Linked DNA regions of Homo sapiens: region 2 is linked to region 1. The links come from fine-mapping of genetic effects on gene expression. A gene starts in region 1. The other region holds a variant in brackets. All regions are shown on one strand. Distances are between the middles of the regions. Region 1 holds the start of DRAP1 (DR1 associated protein 1). Region 2 overlaps TSGA10IP (testis specific 10 interacting protein).

Evidence for each region.
Region 2: its variant is fine-mapped to the expression of DRAP1 in whole blood (TOPMed, PIP above 0.99).

What each region holds. Positions count from the first base shown.
Region 1 is chr11:65,916,449-65,921,810 of GRCh38, forward strand. It overlaps DRAP1 (DR1 associated protein 1), which reads left to right and starts at 2,978. Exons shown (of 7, transcript NM_006442.4): 1 at 2,978-3,095; 2 at 3,332-3,404; 3 at 3,500-3,593; 4 at 3,895-4,014; 5 at 4,121-4,214; 6 at 4,436-4,524; 7 at 4,882-5,115. The coding sequence starts at 3,054. The coding sequence ends at 4,987. C11orf68 (chromosome 11 open reading frame 68) reads right to left here and starts at 2,614. Exons shown (of 2, transcript NM_001135635.2): 1 at 2,462-2,614; 2 at 362-1,770. The coding sequence starts at 2,583. The coding sequence ends at 1,011. RefSeq lists enhancers at 1-11, 1-171, 1,731-2,650, 2,651-3,571 and a silencer at 2,368-3,437.
Region 2 is chr11:65,952,599-65,957,960 of GRCh38, forward strand. It overlaps TSGA10IP (testis specific 10 interacting protein), which reads left to right. Exons shown (of 8, transcript NM_152762.3): 5 at 969-1,139. Among named protein-coding and RNA genes, the nearest start is that of SART1, 6.5 kb to the right of the region's middle. The variant T/C (reference allele first, on the strand shown) is at 2,778.

The sequences.
Region 1 (5,362 bases):
GTGCTGAAATCCAGCCCATCCCATCCTCTGCTCCCCAAACCGCGTACCCCGGCCTAGGACTGCTTGGACTTGGTACCTTTCTCTAATATGCACAAATGCACCCTGAGGGCTAGCAGTGGCCCCTTAGACGTTCCTGGAGGGGTCAACCCCTGGAATTATGGGAAATCTCTGAGAAACTGATTACGGATGGAGGGGAAGTGGGGCTGGTTTTGCAGAGGTTCTTAGAGACAGTGCCTAACCTCAGCAGTGAGGCACAACTTATTGCTAGGGGCAGCTATGGGGGCCTGGCCGGGTCAAGGGGGTAGTCTCTCCTGGCCCTGCCCCTCCCTAGCAACGAAAGCAGGTAACCACCAAGACAGTATTTTAAAAAACACTCAAGACACAGACCCAAGCCGGGTTTTATTGAAATGCCAGGAGCAGGCACATGTCAAAGTAGCCAAGGAAGGGGGGACAGTGGTACAGGCTGTGTAAGTTGGCAGGGATGGGCAAGCCTCATGTCCATGGTCCTGGCATCCCCTCTGCCAGGGGATAAGTAGGCACAACTACCCTCCCCTCAAAATGGCATGCTCAGGCCAGTGGGGCCCCTACCCCTGGACCATGAAGGCTCCAAGAAGGGCTGGAAGCACTAAGTTTTCTCTCTCCTGAGGGGGAAGGAAAGAAGGGGAGATGCAGGAGGAAGGGGAGGTATAGCGGGGGATGAGCGTTCCAAGAAGTCTCTCCTTCTAGGTGTCTGCACCCAACTCATGGTGCTGGGCAGTGGAGAGGAGCAGCATTACAAAGGGAGGCTGAAGGCTCATCCCTCAGGGAACCGGAGCCCCCCAGCCTGTGGGGCTTGTGTCAGCCCTGAACAGAGGGCAGAAGTTCAAGGGGACTGAAGATGCAGGTAGTTCCCAAGTGACCTAGGAGTCCCCAGAGCTGGGGGGTGTGGCCTTCATAGGACAAGGAGGAAGACAGGAGGATCCAACCCCAGCATGGAGGGGGGAGTGGGCAGTCTCCCCAATTTGGCCCCCCTAGGTCAGTTCCACGTTGTTGGCACGGTCAAGCACTCGGGAGCCACGGGCACTACCCCCAAGCTGGAAACGGCTCTCATAGAGAGTGGGGCAGAGGTGCCAGCGATTGGCCCGGTAGATGCCCAGGTAGGTGTAGACATCAGGCTTGTAGGTGAGCAGGCACTTAATGCCCGCTGCACGGATGGCTGAATCCGCCTCCAGTACACCCAAGCGGTCCGTGAAGTCGTCCGTGTAAACACAGATGACCTGGCGCCCACCCTCCTTGGCACGTGGGCTCACCTTGGCCACCTGAAGCTGGCCTTCAACCACGGCCCGGGCAATGCCAGCCCAGGCGTGGTCCAGCTTGAAGCCCGGTGCCAGATGCATAAGCCACTTGCCCGAGAGCACGTGGTGGGTGATGGCGAGCTGGCGCAGGGTACCCGGTGTGATGGGCCGCCCACTGGTCTGCAGAGCTTCCCAGGCTGCCTGCAGGCCCTGCACGTCCCCGGAGTTGGGGCTGTAGCCCTGCCCATACACTGCAATCCAGCCCACAGGCTCTGAGTTGGGTGAACCGGGGTCCCCATAGCGGGTAACTTGGGATGGTGGGTACTTGGCCAGCCAGGCATCCAGCTCAGTGGCAGGCGTTGTGCGGGCATCAAACACTAGCCAGGGGTCCATGTCAGCTGCCATGGCCTCTGCAGCCAGGTGCTCGGCGGTGAAGCCATCCTCACGGCCACCTGGAGAGCCCTCCTCTTCCAGCTCCTCACCTGGTTCCATCCTGCTGTGAGGGAACCGAGTCAGGGCAGGGTCTGAGACAATAACTACAGATGCCAGGCACTGGATTAAACTGTGGCCTTGAGTAAGAGTTACTGTCGATGCGCCTCAGTTGCCTCATCTTTACAATGGGATAACAACTGTTCCTGTCCCGTAGATCTGCTATGAAAATTAGATGCCTGAGGAGTCAGCGCTCCAGAAGGGTTGCTGCAGTTATTACTATTCTCCTTGACTTACAGAAAAGGAAACTGAGGCTGAGAAAAAGGACTTGCCCAAGGTCACACCTGCAGTGCGTGGCAGGGCCGAAGGGTGAATCCAGGCGTGGGAGCAACCAGCCCCAGCTACACCTCCCGGCCCTGCCAAGGCCCCCTTTTCCTGGCAGGTATCCGGTGCGCTGGCATTTAATAGAGGAACGCAAAGAAGCGCACGTTCGCGCAGCTCCCGAGGCCGGCTCTGTAAGGCCAGGCCTCCCAGGCAGGCGTTATCGGGCCCACTTACAGACGAGGACGCTGAAGTCCAGAGAGGTTACAGGCCGTTCCGAGGCCAATGGGGCGGTTCCCAGACTCGAACCAGGGCTTGTTAGAGCCTGCAGGAGAGCCAGGCTCCGGCCGTGCCGCGCCCGCCGCCATTAACGCCCACGGGCCCGAGCTGTGCTCCCGCCCCGGCCCTGCCCTGCCCCTCCCGCCGCCCGCAGTCACCTCCGGCCTTCGCTGCGTTCGACGCCGGCCCAGCCCCGGGCCCGGCTCCGCTCCTGCCGTGGCTCCGCGCCACCGCCACCGCGCCCCACCCCCGCCACGGCCGCCGCCGCCGCCGCCGCCATCTTAGCGCCGCGCCACCTCAACAACAACTTTATAGACAGGCGCAGCCACAGGGCGGAGCCGCGGGCCTCAGCGGCCGCAGCGGCCGCGCTGTGGGGCGGGGCCGGCAGGGGAAGGGGCGGGGCCGACGGGGAGGTGCTGACTCGGGGGCGGGGCCATCGCGGGAACCCCGGGAGGGGCGGGCCGCGGGGGGCGGGGCCAACGTTCGCTCTTCTGGCCTTGGGGGCGGGCGGGAGCGGCGGTCCAGACTGGGGAGGGACGCGCACCGGCCAGGAGGCTTCAAGAGGAGGGCACTAGGGCCCTGCGAGCGGCGTCTTAACCGGCGGCGCTAGGACTCCGCGGGAAACGGCGGGGGCGGAGCGGGCGGCACCAGGACCCAGGGGAACCGCGACGGGCGGGCGGCGAGCAGGCCCGGGAGCCGGGAGGCTGCGGGCGGCGGCGCTGGACCCGACGCGGCGAGAGAGGCCCCGAGATGCCGAGCAAGAAGAAGAAGTACAACGCGCGGTTCCCGCCGGTGAGCACGTGGCAGAGCCCGGCAGGAGTGGGCCCGGCTCCCGGGTGGCTTGGGCCCAGTTCCCGCTGGGCAGGCGGGCGCGCCGCGGTGTTCGGGGGCCTGGACGCCCCGCCCCCTCCATGCCCTCCCCGCGTCCGTGTCCCCCGCCCCCTTTCTCCGGGGATGCCCCTTCCTCCCCCAGCACCCCCTTAGGGGACGGTGGCGACGGGGTCTGAACTCTGCTCCCCCACCCGCAGGCGCGGATCAAGAAGATCATGCAGACGGACGAAGAGATTGGGAAGGTGGCGGCGGCGGTGCCTGTCATCATCTGTATCCTGCCGGGGGCGGACCGGGTCGAGGGGCGTGGGGGAGGGAGGCAGCGGGTCGCCCTCTCCTGCCCCGGAGTTCTCCTTGACGCTCCTCAGCCCGGGCGCTCGAGCTCTTCCTAGAGTCGCTGTTGAAGAAGGCCTGCCAGGTGACCCAGTCGCGGAACGCGAAGACCATGACCACATCCCACCTGTGAGCGGCGAGGAGCCGGGAGGGGCCGGCGGGTTTGGCGCGGGGAGTTCACACACTGAGGAAGGCAGAGCCTGGGTGGCGAGGGAGGTGGGCGGCAGCCGGGACACCAGCAAGGCCACAGACTGGCAGAGGAGAGGCTGGGCTTCCAGGCAGAGGGAGCCACCTGAGTAAAGCAGGGCAGGCCCGGGAGCGGAGATCGGCCCGGGCTCCAGCCTGACATCTGGGGCCCCTTGCTGCCACCCACTGCGGGTTTGGGTGTCTGGGCCCCTCTTGAGTGCCAGCCCCTCCTCACCTCTTCCAGGAAGCAGTGCATCGAGCTGGAGCAGCAGTTTGACTTCTTGAAGGACCTGGTGGCATCTGTTCCCGACATGCAGGGGGACGGGGAAGACAACCACATGGATGGGGACAAGGGCGCCCGCAGGTGGGGCCAGGGCCTGGCATACAGTGGGGAAGGCCAAGGCCACAGGGCTTGGGGGTGGCCAAGGAGTAGGGAGCACTCCGGGCAGATGGACTGTACCTTCCCAAAGGGGCCGGAAGCCAGGCAGCGGCGGCCGGAAGAACGGTGGGATGGGAACGAAAAGCAAGGACAAGAAGCTGTCCGGGACAGACTCGGAGCAGGAGGTGAGTGAGGCCCCAGCCCTTCGCCCTGCCCTTGGTGATGGGACAGGCAGCCTCGCCCCAGGCTGAACTGGCAGGAGGCCAGCTCTCATCCTTTTCTGCAACCTGTTTGCTCACTGGTTTATTTGTAAATTGGGGCTATGAGGGTCTACTGCTGTCCCTGCCACTCCCAGTGATGGGTTCGTGTCTTTTCTTGTCAACTCTGACCTCTGCGGTGCTCACAGGATGAATCTGAGGACACAGATACTGATGGGGAAGAGGAGACATCACAACCCCCACCCCAGGCCAGCCACCCCTCTGCCCACTTTCAGAGGTGAGCAGCCCAGAGGCATGGGAGGGTGCTGGCAGACTCCCCAGAGCCAACTTACCCCTCTTGTTCTCCCTGGCCCCTTGGTCTTGTTGATTGTGGCAGATTTGTGGGGTGGAAGGAGAATAACTGAGGAGGGCTTGAAGGCAGGAGACTGTTCTCCCGAAAGATCCTGCTCCACCCTGCCAGGGCCCGTGGGTGGGGCCTGGGCCTGCCCTGCGTGAGCTGCCCTGGGCCTTGGCCGCATGGATCTGGAGGGTGGTGGTGGGAGGGTCAGATGGGGGAGGGAGGGTCTTGGCAGCTGCCCCTGTGGAGGGCACGGTGGGGCTCAGGCCTGACTCTCTCCTGCCTTCTGCCCTGCAGCCCCCCGACACCCTTCCTGCCCTTCGCCTCTACTCTGCCTTTGCCCCCAGCGCCCCCGGGCCCCTCAGCACCTGATGAAGAGGACGAAGAAGATTACGACTCCTAGCGCCTTCTGCCCCCCAGACCATAGCCCCTTTTAGTTGGTTTTAGTTGCTCTGGGGGGAGGAGAGAAGGTAGAGCTGTTCTTAAATTTATTAAAAAAAAAAATAAAAGGGAATCTCAGTGTCTGTTCCAGGCTCTGCGCAGGACGTCATGGTTGCCATCCCATCCACCCACCTGCCTTCCCCACATGAAACTGGGAGCTGGGGCCGGGTGCGGTGGCTCACGCCTGTAATCCCAACACTTTGGGAGGCTGAGGCGGGCAGATCACCTGAGGTCAAGAGTTCAAGACCAGCCTGGCCAACATGGTGAAACCCCGTCTCTACTAAAAATACAAAAATTAGCTGGGTGTGGTGGTGCATGCCTGTAATCCCAGCTACTA
Region 2 (5,362 bases), 36 kb after region 1:
CCACCATGCCTGGCTAATTTTTTGTATGTTCAGTACAGATGGGGTTTAAGGCTGAAGAATGCCATTGTATATATAGACCACCTTTTATACACAATATATACACAATATATACCATTGTGTATATATACCATGTTGCTCAAGCTGGTCTCAAACTCCTGGGCTCAAGCGATCCACCTGCATCAGCCCCAAAGTGCTGGGGTTACAGGTGTGAGCCACCATGCCTGGCCTTTTTTTTTGGCTCAAGATTGCTTTTGCTGTTTGGAGTATTTTGTGGTTCTATATTAATTTAAAATTGTTTTTTCTATTTCTGTGAAAAATGTCATTGGAATTTTGATAGGCTTGCATTGAATCTGTAAATTGCTTTGGATAATATGGACATTTTAACAATATTAATTCTTCCAAAGCACCCTTCATTTCTTTTTTCTTTCTTTCTTTTTTTTTTTTTTTTTGAGATGGAGTTTTGCTCTTGTTGCCCAGGCTGGAGTACAATGGCGTGGTCTCGGCTCACTACAACCTCTGCTTCCCTGGTTCAAACAATTCTCCCACCTCAGCCTACTGAGTGGCTGGGATTACAGGCATATGCCACCACGCCTGGCTAATTTTGGCATTTTTAGTAGAAACAGGGTTTCACCATGATGACCAAGCTGGTCTCAAACTCCTGACCTCAGGTGATCCGCCTGCCTCCACCTCCCAAAGTGCTGGGATTACAGGCATGAACCACCGTGCCTGGCCTGGAAGCAGGAGACTTCTAGAAAGAGTAGGGAAAGGCCTTGAGCTGGGACCGAGGGCTGAGCCTCCAGGGCAGTCTCTGTCATGGACTTCCATGACAAACCCTACTCCCAGGACACTGGCTCTGGACACTGCAGCCCCTCCCCACAGGCTTCCATATTCCCTTATCCAGCCCCTGGCCCTCCGTGAGGCTCCTGCTGCCCGTGAACCTCTCATTCCCCTTCCCTTTCTCACCCAAGGAGCCTGCTGCAGGCCTGGGAGCGGCAGCGGCAGGAGGAGCGGCAGCAGGCCGAGCTGCGGCGGGCCCGGACACAGCATGTACAGCGGCAGGTGGCCCACTGCCTGGCAGCCTACGCACCCAGAGGGAGCCGGGGCCCTGGGGCGGCCCAGCGCAAGCTGGAGGAGCTGAGGTAGGGAGCCTGGGCTTCGGGAGGCCTGGTTGGGAGAGGGCAGGGAGGCCGTGTCAGGTCTCAGTCTACAGGACCGAGGAGCACCAGCCCTCGCCTTCCCTGGGGCTAACCAGGCCACTTCACCGCGTTTCCAGATAAGGACGCTGAGGCATGGGGAGAAGGGGTCTGTCGAAGGCCACCCAGTTAATAATGACAATCTCTGCAGCTGTTGAATGGTCAAGGTTAAAATATTCTACATGTATGATCACACTTTCAAATCTTCATTTTCTGATTTCCAATGCCAGACATGCTTGTTATAAAATTTCAAAGATTACAGAAATAATGCCTGGAGAAGGTGAACAGCCGTGTGACCCCACTCTGGGAGACAACCATTGTTCACAGTCAGCTGAAGAGTCGCGTTTTGTTCTCTTCCTATATTGTGACCATTTTCCTTTTTTTTTTTTTTTGAGACGGAGTCTCGCTCTGTCGCCCAGGCTGGAGTGCAGTGGCGCGATCTCGGCTCACTGCAATCTCCGCCTCCCAGCTTCACGCCATTCTCCTGCCTCAGTCTCCCGAGTAGCTGAGACTACAGGCGCCCGCCACCACGCCCGGCTAATTTTTTTTTTTTTTTGTATTTTTAGTAGAGACGGGGTTTCACCGTGTTAGCCAGGATAGTCTCGATCTCCTGACCTCGTGATCCACCCGCCTCAGCCTCCCAAAGTGCTGGGATTACAGGTGTGAGACACTGCACCTGGCCGTGACCATTTTCCTAATAAGCAGATTTGTGGGCAAACGTTTTTGGACTCCTAACAGGTCCGTGAAGCAGGGAGTATTGCTGCTGGTGGGCCAGGTCAGGTTCTTCCCTTGGCCGCACAAAAGAAAAAGTTTATTGCAAAGCAAAGGCCACCCTGACCAACATGGTGAAACCTCATCTCTACTAAAAATACAAAAAGTAGCCAGGTGCGGTGGCACATACCTGTAATCCTAGCTATTCGGGAGGCTGAGGCAGGAGAATTGCTTGAACCCGGGAGATGGAGGTTGCAGTGAGCCGAAATTGAGCCACTACACTCCAGCCTGGGCGACAGAGCAAAAACTCCATCTCAAAAAAAAAAAAAAAAGCCCACCCTGAGGACTGCTCAGAGGGAGAGACGGCAGCTTGTGCCTTAAGAGGAATTCCTTTTATGGAAGTTGTTTATACCTAGTCACAAAATACTGGTGAGGTCAGGTATGCAAAGGTGGACCTGTGGTGGGCGCATGCGCTCAGCATCTGCATGCTCCAACACGCATCACATGTAACATTAGCATATACAATCTCTACCTAGGGGTGTGTTTTTTTACCATCAAAACGAGGAAAATGTTGCTATAAGCTAAACCTTGAGCCTAGCTGTGTATGCGGAACCCCGAGAAGTCCTTAGCTCCCTCCAAGGCAGGAATTTGTAGCTAATAGCTTCTTGGGCTTTTGGTGCTGATTGGCTGGAGATCGGGGAAGCTACATTATGAATAAGGGGCTTTTGTTTTTTTTTTCCTGGGCTGTGCTAGGTATGAGGGAACTTGTAGCCATCTGGTATCCCCTAAGACTGCTTATCTTGCAAAAGAGTTAGGTACTCGGCTGTACGCCGTGGCTCACACCTGTAATCCCAACACTTTGGGAAGCCGAGG[T/C]AAGTGGATCACCTGAGGTCAGGATTTCGAGACCAGCCTGGCCAACGTAATGAAACCCCGTCTATACTAAAAAATATATATACAAAAATTAGCTGGGCGTAGTGGCGCGCGACTGTAGTCCCAGCTACTTGGGAGGCTGAGGCGGGAGAATCACTTGAACCCGGGAGGCGGAGGTTGCAGTGAGCCGAGACTGCACCATTGCACTCCAGCCTGGGTGACAGAGAAAGACTCCGTTTCAAAAAAAAAAAAAAGAGTTAGGTGCTGATGCACGAGGGCACAGGGGCTGCAGAGCTCCTGCGAAAGGAGCCCCTGGGGCTTCATACAAGGGGAAAAGTCAGTACGGCCCGCTCACCTTACTATCCTACCTTGGTATCTCCACCTGCATAACCCCACCGGTGAGGAACCTGAGGCTCAGAGATCTTCAATAATTTGTCAAAGGTCATGCATGGGCAGCAGAATTGGGTTCCAGCCACGATGCTGCCCTGCCTGAGCACTCAAATCCTCCGCTTTTAGACGAAAGGCACCAGGACCTTCCCCCAAGAGCCCAAACCAATGACACATGTAACACAAATAAATCAAATAAATATGACCAAAACCAGTGCCATTGATTTGAGCACCTCCTGGGTGCAGCGGGCGCAGGGCATCTTTTTCTGCACCCTGTCTCCTTTGGTCCGTGGCAAGTGGGGTGAGGGTCCTGCCCTGCCTTAAGGCCACTGACGGCTCAGCGGGGTTCTTATCACCTACTCTTTGAGGCTCAGTCTTTTTTTTTTTTTTTTTTTGAGACAGAGTTTCGCTCTTGTTGCCCAAGCTGGAGTGCAATGGCGCGATCTCGGCTCACCGCAACCTCTGCCTCCCGGGTTCAAGCAATTCTCCTGCCTCAGCCTTCCGAGTAGCTGGGATTACAGGCATGCGCCTCCACGCCCGGCTAATTTTGTATTTTTAGTACAGACAGGGTTTCTCCATGTTGGTCAGGCTGGTCTTGAACTCCCGACCTCAGCTGATCCGCCCGCCTCAGCCTCCCAAAGTGCTAGGATTACAGGCGTGAGCCACCGCGCCCGGCCGAGGCTCAGTCTTAATCACCCCAATTTTACAGATTTGGAAACAGAGGCTCTGAAAGGTCAAGTGTGTTTTGGGGGACTGCTTGGGCCAATGTTTAGGGGGATCCTTTCTCCTTCCCAATCTTGCTCTGTTGCCCAGGCTGGAGTGCAGTGGTGTGATCTCAGTTCACTGAAACCTCCATCTCCCGGGCTCAAGCAATTCTCCTGCCTCAGCAACCTGAGTAGCTGGGACCACAGGTGCGCGCCACCACACCTGGCTAATTTTTTTGTATTTTTGGTAGAGACAGGGTTTCACCATATTGCCCCAGCTGTCTCAGACTCCTGACCTCAAGTGATCTGGCTGCCTCGGCCTCCCAGAGTTTTGGGATTACAGGCGTGAGCCACCGCGCCCAGCCAAGTGTTTTGTTTTCACAGTGAGGCAGGAAGTGTAAGGTTCAGAACTCCAAGTGGCAGGTGCAGCAAAAAGAGTGATTCAACCTCACTCCTTTTACTTTCTATTTGAGAGGGCTAAGGCATAAGTAGGTATCTCCCATGCAGTCTCTCAGCCATTACAGCCTATGAACTTCGCTGTCTGAGCGGAACAGGAGACTCTGTCCTGCCTAGGAAGGGCAGGCACAAAAGAGGTTGTCCTGTGGGAGGGAGGGATGTGTCTCCTTCCATTCTGAGATGATGGACGGGGCTGACACCCATAGGCACCACTTCCCTTTCTGCTCAGGGCTCCTGTCATTGTTTTTTTGAGACAAAGTCTCGCTCTGTCGCCAGGCTGGAGTACAGTGGTGCAATCTCGCCTCACCATAACCTCCAACTCCCCAGTTCAGACGATTCTCCTGCCTCAGCCTCCCAAGTAGCTGGGATTACAGGCGCACGCCACCACTCCCAGCTAACTTTTGTATTTTTAGTAGAGACAGGGTTTCACCATGTTGGCCAGGATGGTCTCGATCTCCTGACCTCGAGATCTGCCCGCCTCGGCCAGCTCCTGTCACTTCTAACAGAAATAGCATAAAGTATCCAGCAGGAAAAGTGCACACAATATCACAGAAAAGATAGGGACTGCCAGCTCATTTCCCACCTCCCCTTGTAACTGCCATAAATTCCTTCCTAAATGGTGAAAGCCGTTTTTGCAGTAACTTGTGTTCCGGGCCATGGGTTTTCAAGTCCATGTCTTTTTCTCAATGAAGGATGGTTCCTTCCCTGGCACAGGGCCACAGCAAGGGTGGCATGGCCCAGCAAGGCTGAGTTTTTCCACCGGGCCCAGCACAATCGCTGAGGTCCCAGTACAGGTCTTGGGGTCTTGTCTGTGTCTCCCCTCCCCTCCTGTCCTCTTGTCTGCGTCTTCCCTCCCCTCCTGTCCATGGGTGCTGCCTCCACACCTCAAGGCCTCTCTTACATGCTTCACAGATGGATGCCTGGTCCCATGTGGGTGTGGCTCGAAGGTCCCTCTTGCTGCTAGAGTGCTCTCTTCATGAGTGGCAGTGATACTCAAGTTTGTCAAACAGACACATTTCTGACAAGTGCACAAACTGGGTT